3 linked regions of the Homo sapiens genome follow. Each later gene encodes a partner of the first gene's protein in a complex. Each region holds a gene or a part of one and is shown on either strand. Other genes may lie near its edges. The genes, in order: TAF13, TAF4 and TAF12.

Region 1 (3,651 bases):
GGAGGTTGCAGTGAGCCAAGATCGTGCCATTGCACTCCAGTCTGGGCAACAAGAACGAAACTCCATCTCAAAAAAAAAAAAAAACAAAAGGAAGAAGGGGGGATAGAATATACATGTATAACCTCCATCCTCAATGATAAATAGTAACCAATAACTTCTGCAAACAAGCACTCAAATGGATAGCTTATTTCAAAGGGATGCCATAAGTTCTAGTCTTACCTAAAGTTTAATATTTCAAATCTATTCTTCAATTAACTAAGACCAGTTAGGAAAGAATCTTACCATTTCAGTGATAAACTCTATGACAAGATCTTCAAGAATATCCACTGACTCAGTATAAGGATTCTGGTCATCCCCAAAGCCATACATCATACATCGCACTGTAAAAGAACAATCACTTACTTTTGTTTACTTTTACAGATTTAACAATTTGATACTTTAAAAAAATAAAGTAGAAATGAACCAAGTTATAGATAATATTGGTATGAAAACATATTTACATCGTATTTGTTATCTCCAAGTATGGATTCTTGTGTAAAAGGTTTAAGAACAGTCTGATGACCAACTGTTCCCACGTAGCCTCCAGCAAAACTCTTCCTTCCTCCCACCTACTGAACCCTAAGGTAAACAGTCTTTTCCTAATCTCTAGCATCTACTTACCAGTCCCTGCCCCCAGCAGAACACCTTTAAGTAGGAAACTCTGGCAAAGGACAGGACAGACAGCAACAGCTTAGCCTTTTTTGGAGGTGGTTTTTGTGTGTGGGCATGGCAGTGGGGCGTTGGAAAAACGGCAGACTCTTTACTGATATTACCATAGGGGAAAAGACATGAGAGACAGTTCTCCAAATACTTTTTTTGTTTGTTTGTTTGTTTGTTTTTCTTGAGACAGAGTCTCGCTCTGTCGCCCAAGCTGGAGTGCAGTGGCACCATCTTGGCTCACTGCAAGCTCCATCGCCTCCTGGGTTCACACCATTCTCCTGCCTCAGCCTCCCGAGTAGCTGGGACTACAGGCACCCACCACCACGCCCGGCTAATTTTTTGTATTTTTAGTAGAGAAGGGGTTTCACTGTGTTAGCCAGGATGGTCTCGATGATCTGACCTGGTGATCTGCGTGCCTCAGCCTCCCAAAGTGCTGGGATTACAGGCGTGAGCCACCGCGCCCAGCCCCAAATCTGTTCTTATAGGAAGAAACAGGGTACTCAAAATGAGAAAGCAGAGGGCTTACTACAAGGAATTTTGACATTTCCTAGATCAATACAACTGCAGCAAAGCCCTTTCAGGCTTCATCTGAAGAAACCATAGGAAATGCAAAGGATAAGTCTAGGTCGGGTGCAGTGGCCCACGCCTGTAAACCCAGCACTTTGGGAGGCCCAGGCAAGTAGACTGCTTGAGCTCAGGAGTTTGAGACAAGCCTGGGCAACATGGCGAAACCCTGTCTCTACATAAAAAACAAAAATTAGCTGGGCGTAGGCCTGGATGGTGGCTCACGCCTGTAATCCCAGCACTTCAGGAGGCTGAGGCAGATCACTTGAGGCCAGAAGTTTGAGATCAGCCTGGCCAACAAGGTGAAAACCTGTTTCTACTAAAAAAAAAAAAAAAACACAAAAGTCAGCTGGGGGTGTTGGCACATGCCTATAATCCCAGCTACTCGGGAGGCTGAGGCATGAGAATCGCTTGAATCCAGGAGGCAGAGGTTGCAGTGAGCTGAGAATGCGCCACTGCACTCCAGCCTGGGTGACAGAGGGAGGCTGTGTCTCAAAAATAATAATAATAATAAGAGAGACTGTGTCTCAAAAATAATAAGAGAGAAGTCTAATACAGACAAATAAAAATAACTGCCAAAAGATAAAACATATATAGCCCTTATTATATGCCAGGTACTGTCTTAAGTCCTTTACATATATAACTCATTTAATCCTCACAATGATCCTTTAAGGTAGAAACTATTGATTATCCCCATTCTATAGATGAGAAAATTAAAGCACTGCAGTAACTGATTTACCCAAGGTCACAAAGCTAGTAAGAGATGGAACCTGAGTTTGAACCCAGCTGATCTGGTTCGCGTCTTTACTCATACCCACAACAGCATCGCACTTGTTGGTAGTTGTAGTTTAGGGCAGACAGGATCCGTGTGAATTCTTTTTTTTGCTCTCCTTTTTTGAGACAGTCTTGGCTCTGTCGCCCAGGCTGGAGTGGTGTTGCAGTACAGCTTGCTGCAGCCTCAACCTCCCTGGCTCACGTGAGCAGCTGAGACTACAGACACATGCCACTATGCCTGGCTAATATGTGGGGTTTTTTTTGAAACAGAAGTGTCACTGTGTCACCCAGGGTGGAGTGCAATGGCACGATCTCAACTCACTGCAACCTCCACCTCCCGGATTCAAGAGATTCTCAAACTTTAGCCTCCAAGTAGCTGGGATTACAGCCATGCGCTACCACACCCAGCTAATTTTTTTGTATTTTTTAGTAGAGTCAGGGTTTTGCCACGTTGCCCAGATAGTCTTGAATTCCTGGCCTCAAGTGATCTGCCTGCCTTGGCCTCCCAAATTATTGGGATTACAGGCCTAAGCTACCACACCCAGCCATTTAAAATTTTTTCTAGAGACAGGGGTCTTGCTATGTTGCCTAGGCAGTTTTTGAACTGGTTTCTAACTATTTATTTATTTTTATTTTTTCGTAGAGACAGGGTCCCACCTTGTTGCCCAGGCTGGTCTTGAACTCCTGGACTCAAGTAATCCTCCTGCCTTGGCCTCCCAAAGTGCTAGGATTACAGGTGTGAGCCACCACACCCAGCTGAGATCCACAGAGGTTCTTATCCTATCGCCTATAAACTCCCAGTCCAGAGACAAGCTTTAAGAAGTCCTTGAAGGCCAGCGCGGTGGTTCACGCCTATAATTCCAGCACTTTGGGAGGCCAAGGTGGGCGGATCACCTGAGGTCGGGAGTTTGAGACCAGCCTGACCAACATGGTGAAACCCCGTCTCTACTAAAAATACAAAAATTAGGGGGGCGTGGTGGCACGCACCTGTAATCCCAGCTATTTGGGAGGCTGAGGCAGGAGAATAGCTTGAACCCAGGAGGCAGAGGTTGCGGAGAGCTGAGATCATGCCAATGCATTCCAACCTGGGCGAAAGAGGGAGACTCTGCCTCAAAAAATAAAAAAAGAAGTCCTTGAGACTACCCTGAAATCATACGGAAAAATTTTATACATTATCTGTACATGGGCATTTTTCTGGGAATAATTATAACTTTTATCAGATTATCAAAGGGGTATATGTAAATGGTAAGAAATGCTGTCAAATGCTGGAAGTGTTCTGTATCTTGATCTTAGTAGTGATTACAAGTGTGTGAGTGTGTGTGTGTGTGTGTGCGCACATGTATACAGTTGTCCCTTAGTATCCTTGGGAGCTTGGTTCCAGGACCTCCCGTGGATACCAAAATCTGCAGATGCTCAAATCCCAGATATAAAATGGCATAGTATTTGCATATAAGCTAAATACATCCTATGTATATTTTAAATCATCTCTAGGTTACTTACAATACCTAATACAATGTAAATGCTATGTAAATAGTTGTTATACTATACTGTTTAGGGAATAGTGACAAGGAAAAAAGTCTATACATATTCAATAGAGGCACAGTTTTTTTTTCT
Region 2 (3,651 bases), on another chromosome or scaffold:
AGGGCCGAAGCTCCCGACTCCTGAGCTGTGGTAGGGAGCACGGATTCACACACACACACACACACACACACACACACACACACACACACACCCGCGTCAGCCTTCAGGGCCGAAGCTCCCGACCCCTGAGCTGTGGTAGGGAGCACGGATTCTGACTTGGAGGGCAGAGTGCCCAGGACTTGCCTCTCCCGGCGTGTGTCTGTGTCTGGCCCCATGACTGTCACCTGCACGTGCCCGCACGCTGCGTGTTCCTGCCCCGTCTCCTGCCGTGTTTCCCTGGCACTGTGATGCTGCTGCTCTGAATGACCTGGCAGGTTTGTGAAGACTGGAATGACTTGATCAGCATCCTTCTCCTGCTACGTGAGCTGCGTACCCTCTGGAGTTGTGCCTCTGTCCCATAGACAGGGACGTGGACGGACGTGCCGGAGGCTGCCAGAGACCACCCAGATCTGAAGTAGCACAGAACGGTGTCCTCAAGTCTGCAGCATCTGTCTGCTGAGTGGGACACTGTGGAAGACACTCGTGGCTTCACTTGCACTGTGGGCATCCCATTGCAGTCTGCCATCTGCTCTTTCCATGTCAGTCTCTCTCCGACAAACTTCATGGGCTCAGGACTTGTGGCGTCCCTCTGTCCTGGGCAGCCACCTTCCTTCCCCTCTCTGGCACTGACTGGCCATCTAGCCTAGGGGCGGCCACCTCCCTACCCCTTTGCGACACTGACTGGCCGTCTGCCTTTGCATCCTTTTTAGTGATTGTTAACGAGGTCACAAGCCAGCAGCACGAGGATTGATTTCTAGATACCTGCGTTCTTCAGAGATGACCTTTTGTAGACTCTGTTAAGAAGCCTAATGATATGTTTATTGTAGTATAGGAAAATGTTTGTCATACACTTGTTCTTTGGTAAGAAAACTTTAGAATTACAGTGGCTTCATTGCAGATCACGGATAAGCCTGGGACCCACTTGGATATACTAGTTACATATGGAAGGAATAATTTCTGTGTACCTGGGGGTGGGAATTCCTTTTACTTGCGCTCGTTTTAGGTGACTCTGCTTATTTTTCAGGCACCTGGAACACCTATCATTGCACGGCAGGTGACCCCAACTACCATAATTAAGCAAGTGTCTCAGGCCCAGACAACGGTGCAGCCCAGTGCAACCCTGCAGCGCTCGCCCGGCGTCCAGGTGAGAGGGCAGGCGGCGGATCTCTTGAGGCTGCAGGGGCCACGAAGTGTGATTTCTTTGATGCAGAGATCAGGCCTTAGGAGTTTTTTTTTTTTTTTAAACTGGATACTACGTCAAATCTGGGGAGGAAGGTTCTCTGTGAAGAAAGTGCTTTTTCTTTGACCACCAACATGGGATAAGTCAGGATTTCTTTTTTTCTTTTTTCTTTTTTTTAGTCACACAGAATTTAACACCAGCAGCACTGTTCAAGCTTTCCACCATGTTGGAAGCATTAAAACTATGTCCTTACTAGTACTTGATCATAAGGCATGTCTGAAGCAGAAGCAGCCTGCGGTGAGGACAGTGTGTGTGTGCACATGTGGCCTTGTGTGTAACTTGAGGACGGCGGCTGTCGCTAAGGTGAACGTGGCCGAGGCGTCGCTCTCACTGTTGCAGGCACATGGACCGTAACTTTCACCGCACCCTGGGAAGCAGATGACATCGCTCCCTTCATCTCGTGGTGCGGCGCTTACACTGAGGCAAGGGAGGCTCTGGGACTCACTCCCGGCCATGCCACCTGCACGGTGCCTGCCACGCCACGCTGCCACCTGCCGCTCACATCCCTCGTCTGTAGTGAGAGCATCGTTCTAGAAGGGTTCTGTATCCACCCTGGTGGCCGCTGGTTTCTAGAACAGCGTTTTCATCTGCAGAGAGGAGCGTGTCCCAGAGCAGGTGCTGGCCCCTCTCCTAGTGGTGCTGATGCTCCTGACAGCTCAGCCTTTGGCCTGCAGATCCCAGAAGGGTTTGTGTGCAGGCCAGGCTGTTCTGGAAGGGGTGGCGGAGGTGTGTGGAGGGGAAGGGGCTGGCCGGTCAGACGCACCTGGTGAGGGAAGCAGCTTTCTCTGGGCAGTCAGCAGGAAGCAGCTGGGAGAAAAATGGTTCAGGGGTTTTTCTTGGTCACCTGGTGTCTGTGAGCATCCGTGGATGCGTAGGTCTCTATGGTGTTGGTCGCTGCTGGTGAAGCACCTGCCATGAGCCAGGCAGTGGGCCTGGACGCTCTGCAGAGAGATCCAGAGTCCTTGCCTCAGTGCCACAGGCCCTTTTCCCATTGCTCAGTGGTGAAATGGAGGCTGAGCCCCAGGGGGTGTGGACTCCAGGGGCAGCTCCCCCCGCAACCCCGGCTCTTCTACCCTCACTGGGTCATGTCCTGGCTGGCTGCAGCTGCAGTGGGTGAAAGTGGGTGGAAGGGCGGTTCAGTACCAGGGAGATGTGTGCTGGCCTTTGGTGCAGGCCCCGCCCTTGGTGTTTTCCCTGAAGGAGCTTGCTCAGTCCTGTGCTCTGATTGGTGCGTCTGGATTTTTGGTTACAGTGACTTTTTTGAGAAGGTAGTTGGAGCTTATGGTTAAGTTTTTGCATTATACTTAGTGGCAGACACAATCTGGATATCATCTGAGTGAAATATGTGTTCTTAGGAGTGGAAGTAAGTGTGAGGAGTCAGTTTTGATGGGAAAGAAGACTCCCAAAAGATGAGGTGGGTCCTGGGTACTCCCAGGGTCCAGAAGCAGCAGCTTGGTGTGTCCTTTTATGTTTTCTTCACTGGAGGTTTTTATTTGATGTTTTTCAGTTAAAAAAAAAATCCATGCTTATTGTTACAAGTGAAAAGATACACAGACTTAGAAACAGTCCCTCCACCCTGCTGCCTCCTCACAGCCCATCCGCACCCCTCTGGAAGCGGGGCTGGTTCAGAGTTGCTTCCCACGTGCTGGCGGGGCTGCACCCACCGGGAGAGAGCTCGCTGCTCCGGAGCCATTCTCAGGCTTACACTGCCCCCTGCTTTCAGAAGTTGCAAAGGAGTGTTTAAAAAATTGGAGACAGAAAATGTTGACTGCTAGATTTATACATTGGAAAAGTACTAGTTTAAAATATCAGTAAACATTTGCATTCTGATTATTCATGTAGAATGGAAATGTTAGGAATCGAGTACAGGCCACTGAGTTGTCTGAGCTACCTTTTGGCGTCTGGCTGTTCATTTGCTTAGCAAAGCAGCCCCTCCTTTCTGACAGTTTGACACTGATGACCCATCCTCCATTGCTCGAATCTGCTCTGAAAACTCCCCTCTGTGGGAGGCTTCTTGTTGACACTCACTTTTGGGGAGTAAAGAAAGGTGGGTTTGGGTGATTGCAGGGAGCTGGGGACCCTCCCCTATGGGAGGCTGCGGCTGTGGAGCCCTGACCGCCCTGTAGCCAGCCTCTGCACCTGGGAGGATGGAGCTTTCAGGAGCCGTTCTTCTGTTTGTTGTTTTGATTTCTGAGAGATGGGGATCTGGGTTGCCTGTTAGGATTATTTACTCTGGTCTCTATGTGACTTTTTCCATGGACTTCTGAGGACTGGGGTCTCTGCAGTGCCTGGCTTTGTGAACGTCCGTTTTTGATGCAGGTGCAAATCATGCCTTCCTCACCCGCTCAGGACTGCGATCGTCAGGGCACAGG
Region 3 (3,651 bases), about 80 Mb from region 1:
GTAGCTCGGATTACAGGTATACACCACCATGCCCAGCTATTTTTTTTTTTATTTAGTACAGACGGGGTTTCACCATGTTAGACTGGTCGCGAACTCCTGACCTCAGGTGATCCACCTGCCTCGGCCTCCCAAAGTGCTGGGATTACAGGGCATGCACCTCCAAGCCCGGCCTACTTTTTTTTTTTTTTTTTTTTGAGACAGAATCTCACTCTGTTGCCCAGGCCAGAGTACAGGAGCCCAATCTTGGCTCACTGTAACCTCTGCCTCCCGGGTTCAAGCGATTCTACTGCCTCAGCCTCCAGAGTAGCTGGGATTACAGGCACGTGCCACCATGCTGGGCTAATTTTTGCATTTTTTAGTAGAGATGGCATTTCGTCATGTTGGCCAGGCTGGTCTTGAATTCCCGACCTCAGGTGATCCACCCGCCTCAGCCTCCCAAAGTGCTGGGATTACAGGCATGAGACACTGTATCCAACCGAAAATAAATTTTAAAAAGTAAAACAGGGCCAGGTGCAGTGGCTCATGCCTGTAATCCCAGCACTTTGGGAGGCTGAGGCGGGCAGATCACTTGAGGTCAGGAGTTCAAGACCAGTTTGGCTAACACGGTGAAACCCCGTCTCTACTAAAAATACAAAAATTAGCCGGGTATGTTGGCTCACACCTGTAATCCCAGCACTTTGGGAGGCCGAGGTGGGCAGATCATCTAAGGCTGGGAGTTCTAAACCAGCCTGACCAACATGGTGAAACCCCGTCTCTACTAAAAATACAAAAATTAGCTGGGCATGGTGGTGCATGCCTGTAATCCCAGCTATTCGGGAGGCTGAGGCAGGAGAATCGCTAGAATCCGGGAGGCGGAGGTTCCGGTGAGCCGAGATTGTGCCATCGCACTCCAGCCTGGGCAATGAAAGCGAAACTCCATCTCAAAAAAAAAAAAAAAAAAAAATTAGCCAGGTGTGGTGGCGCGTGCCTGTAATCCCAGCTATTCGGGAGGCTGAGGCAGGAGAATCACTTGAACCCAGGAGGTGGAGGTTGCAGTTAGCCGAGATTGCGCCACTGCAACCCAGCCTGGATGACAGAGTGAGACTGTCTCAAACAAATAAATAAAAAATAAATAAAAATCAAAAACAAAAACAGGCATTAACTGGCCGGGCACAGTGGCTCACGCCTGTAATCTCCACACTTTGGGAGGCTGAAGCAGGTGGATCACAAGGTCAGGAGTTCGAGACCATCCTGACCAACATGGTGAAACTCCGTCTCTACTAAAAATACAAAAAAATTAGCCAGGCGTGGTGGCGCTTGCCTGTAATCTCAGCTATTTAGGAGGCTGAGGCAGGACAATAGCTTGAACTCGGGAGGCAGGGGTTGCAGTAGGCCGAGATCACACCACTGCACTCCAGCTTGGGCGACAGAGCGAGACTCCATCTCAAAAAAAAAAAAAAAAAAAAACCCCACAAAAAACAGGCATTAACTGTGGGACAGTTTGAGAGAACAATAATAATTAACCCTTACTATTACCTACTATGTAGAAATTGTGTGCTATGAGTCACAAAGTAAATATGGAAAGTCCACCCCCCAGTGATTGGTTGTTGAAAATATTTAGTAATTCTATCAAAACACGATTGTATGGGTTAGAGTTCAATTTAAATAAACCCATCTAGGCAAGGTGCAGTGGCTCACGCCTGTAATCCCAACACTTTGGGAGGCCGAGGTGGGCAGATCACCTGAGGTCGGAAGTTTGAGACCAGCCCGACCAACATGCAGAAAACCCATTTCTACTAAAAATACAAAATTAGCCGGGCATGGTGGGGTATTCCTGTAATCCCAGCTACTCGGGAAGCTGAGGCAGGAGAATTGTTTGAACCCGGGAGGTGGAGGTTGCAGTGAGCCGAGATCACGCCATTGCACTCCAGCCTGGGCAACAAGAGCAAAACTCCATCTAAAAAATAAATAAGTAGGCCAGGCATGGTGGCTCATGCCTGTAATCCCAGCACTTTGGGAGGCCGAGGCAGGCGGATCACGAGGTCAGGATCGAGACCATCCTGGCTAACAGGGTGAAACCTCACCTCTACTAAAAAAAAAAATACAAAAAATTAGACAGGCATGGTGGCGGGTGCCTGTAGTCCCAGCTACTCCGGAGGCTGAAGCAGGAGAATAGCGCGAACCCGGGAGGTGGAGCTTGCAGTGAGCCGAGATCGCGCCACTGCACTCCAGCCTGGGCGACAGAGCAAGACTCCGTCTCAAATAAATAAATAAATAAATAAAAAAAACCACATCTATCCTCCCTCCTTTTTTTTTTTTTTTTTTTTTTTTTGAGATGGAGTCTCACTGTGTCGCCCAGGCTACAGTGCAGTGTCGCCCAGGCTACAGTGCAGTGGCGCAATCTTGGCTCACTGCCAGCTCCACCTCCTGGGCTCACACCATTCTCCTGTCTCAGCCTCCTGAGTAGCTGGGTCTACAGGCGCCTGCCACCACACCCGGCTAATTTTTTGTATTTTTAGTAGACATGGGGTTTCACCGTGTTAGCCAGGATGGTCTCAATCTCCTGAACTCATGATCTGCCCACCTCGGCCTCCCAAAGTGCTGGGATTACAGGCATGAGCCACTGCACCCGGCCTATCCTCCCTCCTTTTAAACTGTGGTTGACTGGCTGAGGATGACAAGCCCTAATTGCTTCCCTTTAACAACCTTGTACTTCAAACAGAAGTCTAGCTGCAACCCTATTATTGTATTGAGAGGGTCTAATTTTTCATAGGGTAGGAATTAAGGAGACCTTGGCAATAGTTGTAAGACCCTGGTATTCTCTGTGCATCTATTCCATTAACTGTTTTTTTTTTTTTAAAAAAACAAAACAAAGGTGAAGAGAAAGGGGAACAGAAGAAAAGGTAGCCTTCAAAACCTTTTTTTACCTCTGAAATGTTTAGTAATTTATTATTTAAGCAAAATACTGGAATCAAGAGGACTGGCCTGATGGCATAAAAGCCCTATACTGTGGTGCATGACTTCACTTAATGACTGGTTTTTCTACCTGGCTGTTTCTTTCCTCTCTGGCTTCTAAATGTATCTAAATGAGCTCATATTTCCCAGCCTAAATAAGCTAAAAAGGATCAATTATTTGCAGTCTGTGAGACTCGAGAGCAATAGAAATGCAAGATTTTTTTCCAGTGTGCAATTAGGATTGGTTAGTTGAGGCTCCAGCTGCTTTTGACTTATCAAAAAGGCAGTATAGGCCACATGTGGGACCCCACGTCTGTAATCCCAGAACTTTGGGAGGACAACATGGGAGGACTGTTTGAGGTTAGGAGTTGGAGACCAGCCTGGGCAACACAAAAAGATCCTGTCTCTAACAACAACAAAAGGTAGTATAGTGTATAGTACAGTGGTCAAGGATATGAACCATGGTAGCAGTATCTGGGTTTAAGTACCAACTGTGCCACTTTTCAGCTGTATTGAGCAAGCTACATAATCTCTTTATGCCTCAATTTTCTCATCTGAAAAAATTAAGTTAATAATGAAGTACAGGGTGGGCTTGGTGGCTCACACCTATAATTCTAGCAGTTTGGCAGGCTGAGCGGGAGGATCACTTGAACCTAGGAGTTTGAGACCAGCCTGGGCAACATAGTGAGATCTGGTCACTACAAATAAAAAAAAAAA

What was found.
Region 2: TAF13 (region 1) and TAF4 share a complex: the UniProt entries of both Homo sapiens proteins name them as parts of the TFIID basal transcription factor complex.
Region 3: TAF13 (region 1) and TAF12 share a complex: the UniProt entries of both Homo sapiens proteins name them as parts of the TFIID basal transcription factor complex.

Annotation. Positions count from the first base shown.
Region 1 is NC_000001.11:109,065,853-109,069,503, forward strand, and holds part of TAF13 (transcription initiation factor TFIID subunit 13), read right to left. Parts: intron 381-3,651; coding exon 283-380; intron 1-282. UniProt on the Homo sapiens protein: The TFIID basal transcription factor complex plays a major role in the initiation of RNA polymerase II (Pol II)-dependent transcription.
Region 2 is NC_000020.11:62,010,347-62,013,997, reverse strand, and holds part of TAF4 (transcription initiation factor TFIID subunit 4), read left to right. Parts: intron 1-1,063; coding exon 1,064-1,183; intron 1,184-3,651. UniProt on the Homo sapiens protein: The TFIID basal transcription factor complex plays a major role in the initiation of RNA polymerase II (Pol II)-dependent transcription.
Region 3 is NC_000001.11:28,632,991-28,636,641, forward strand, and holds part of TAF12 (transcription initiation factor TFIID subunit 12), read right to left. Parts: intron 1-3,651. UniProt on the Homo sapiens protein: The TFIID basal transcription factor complex plays a major role in the initiation of RNA polymerase II (Pol II)-dependent transcription.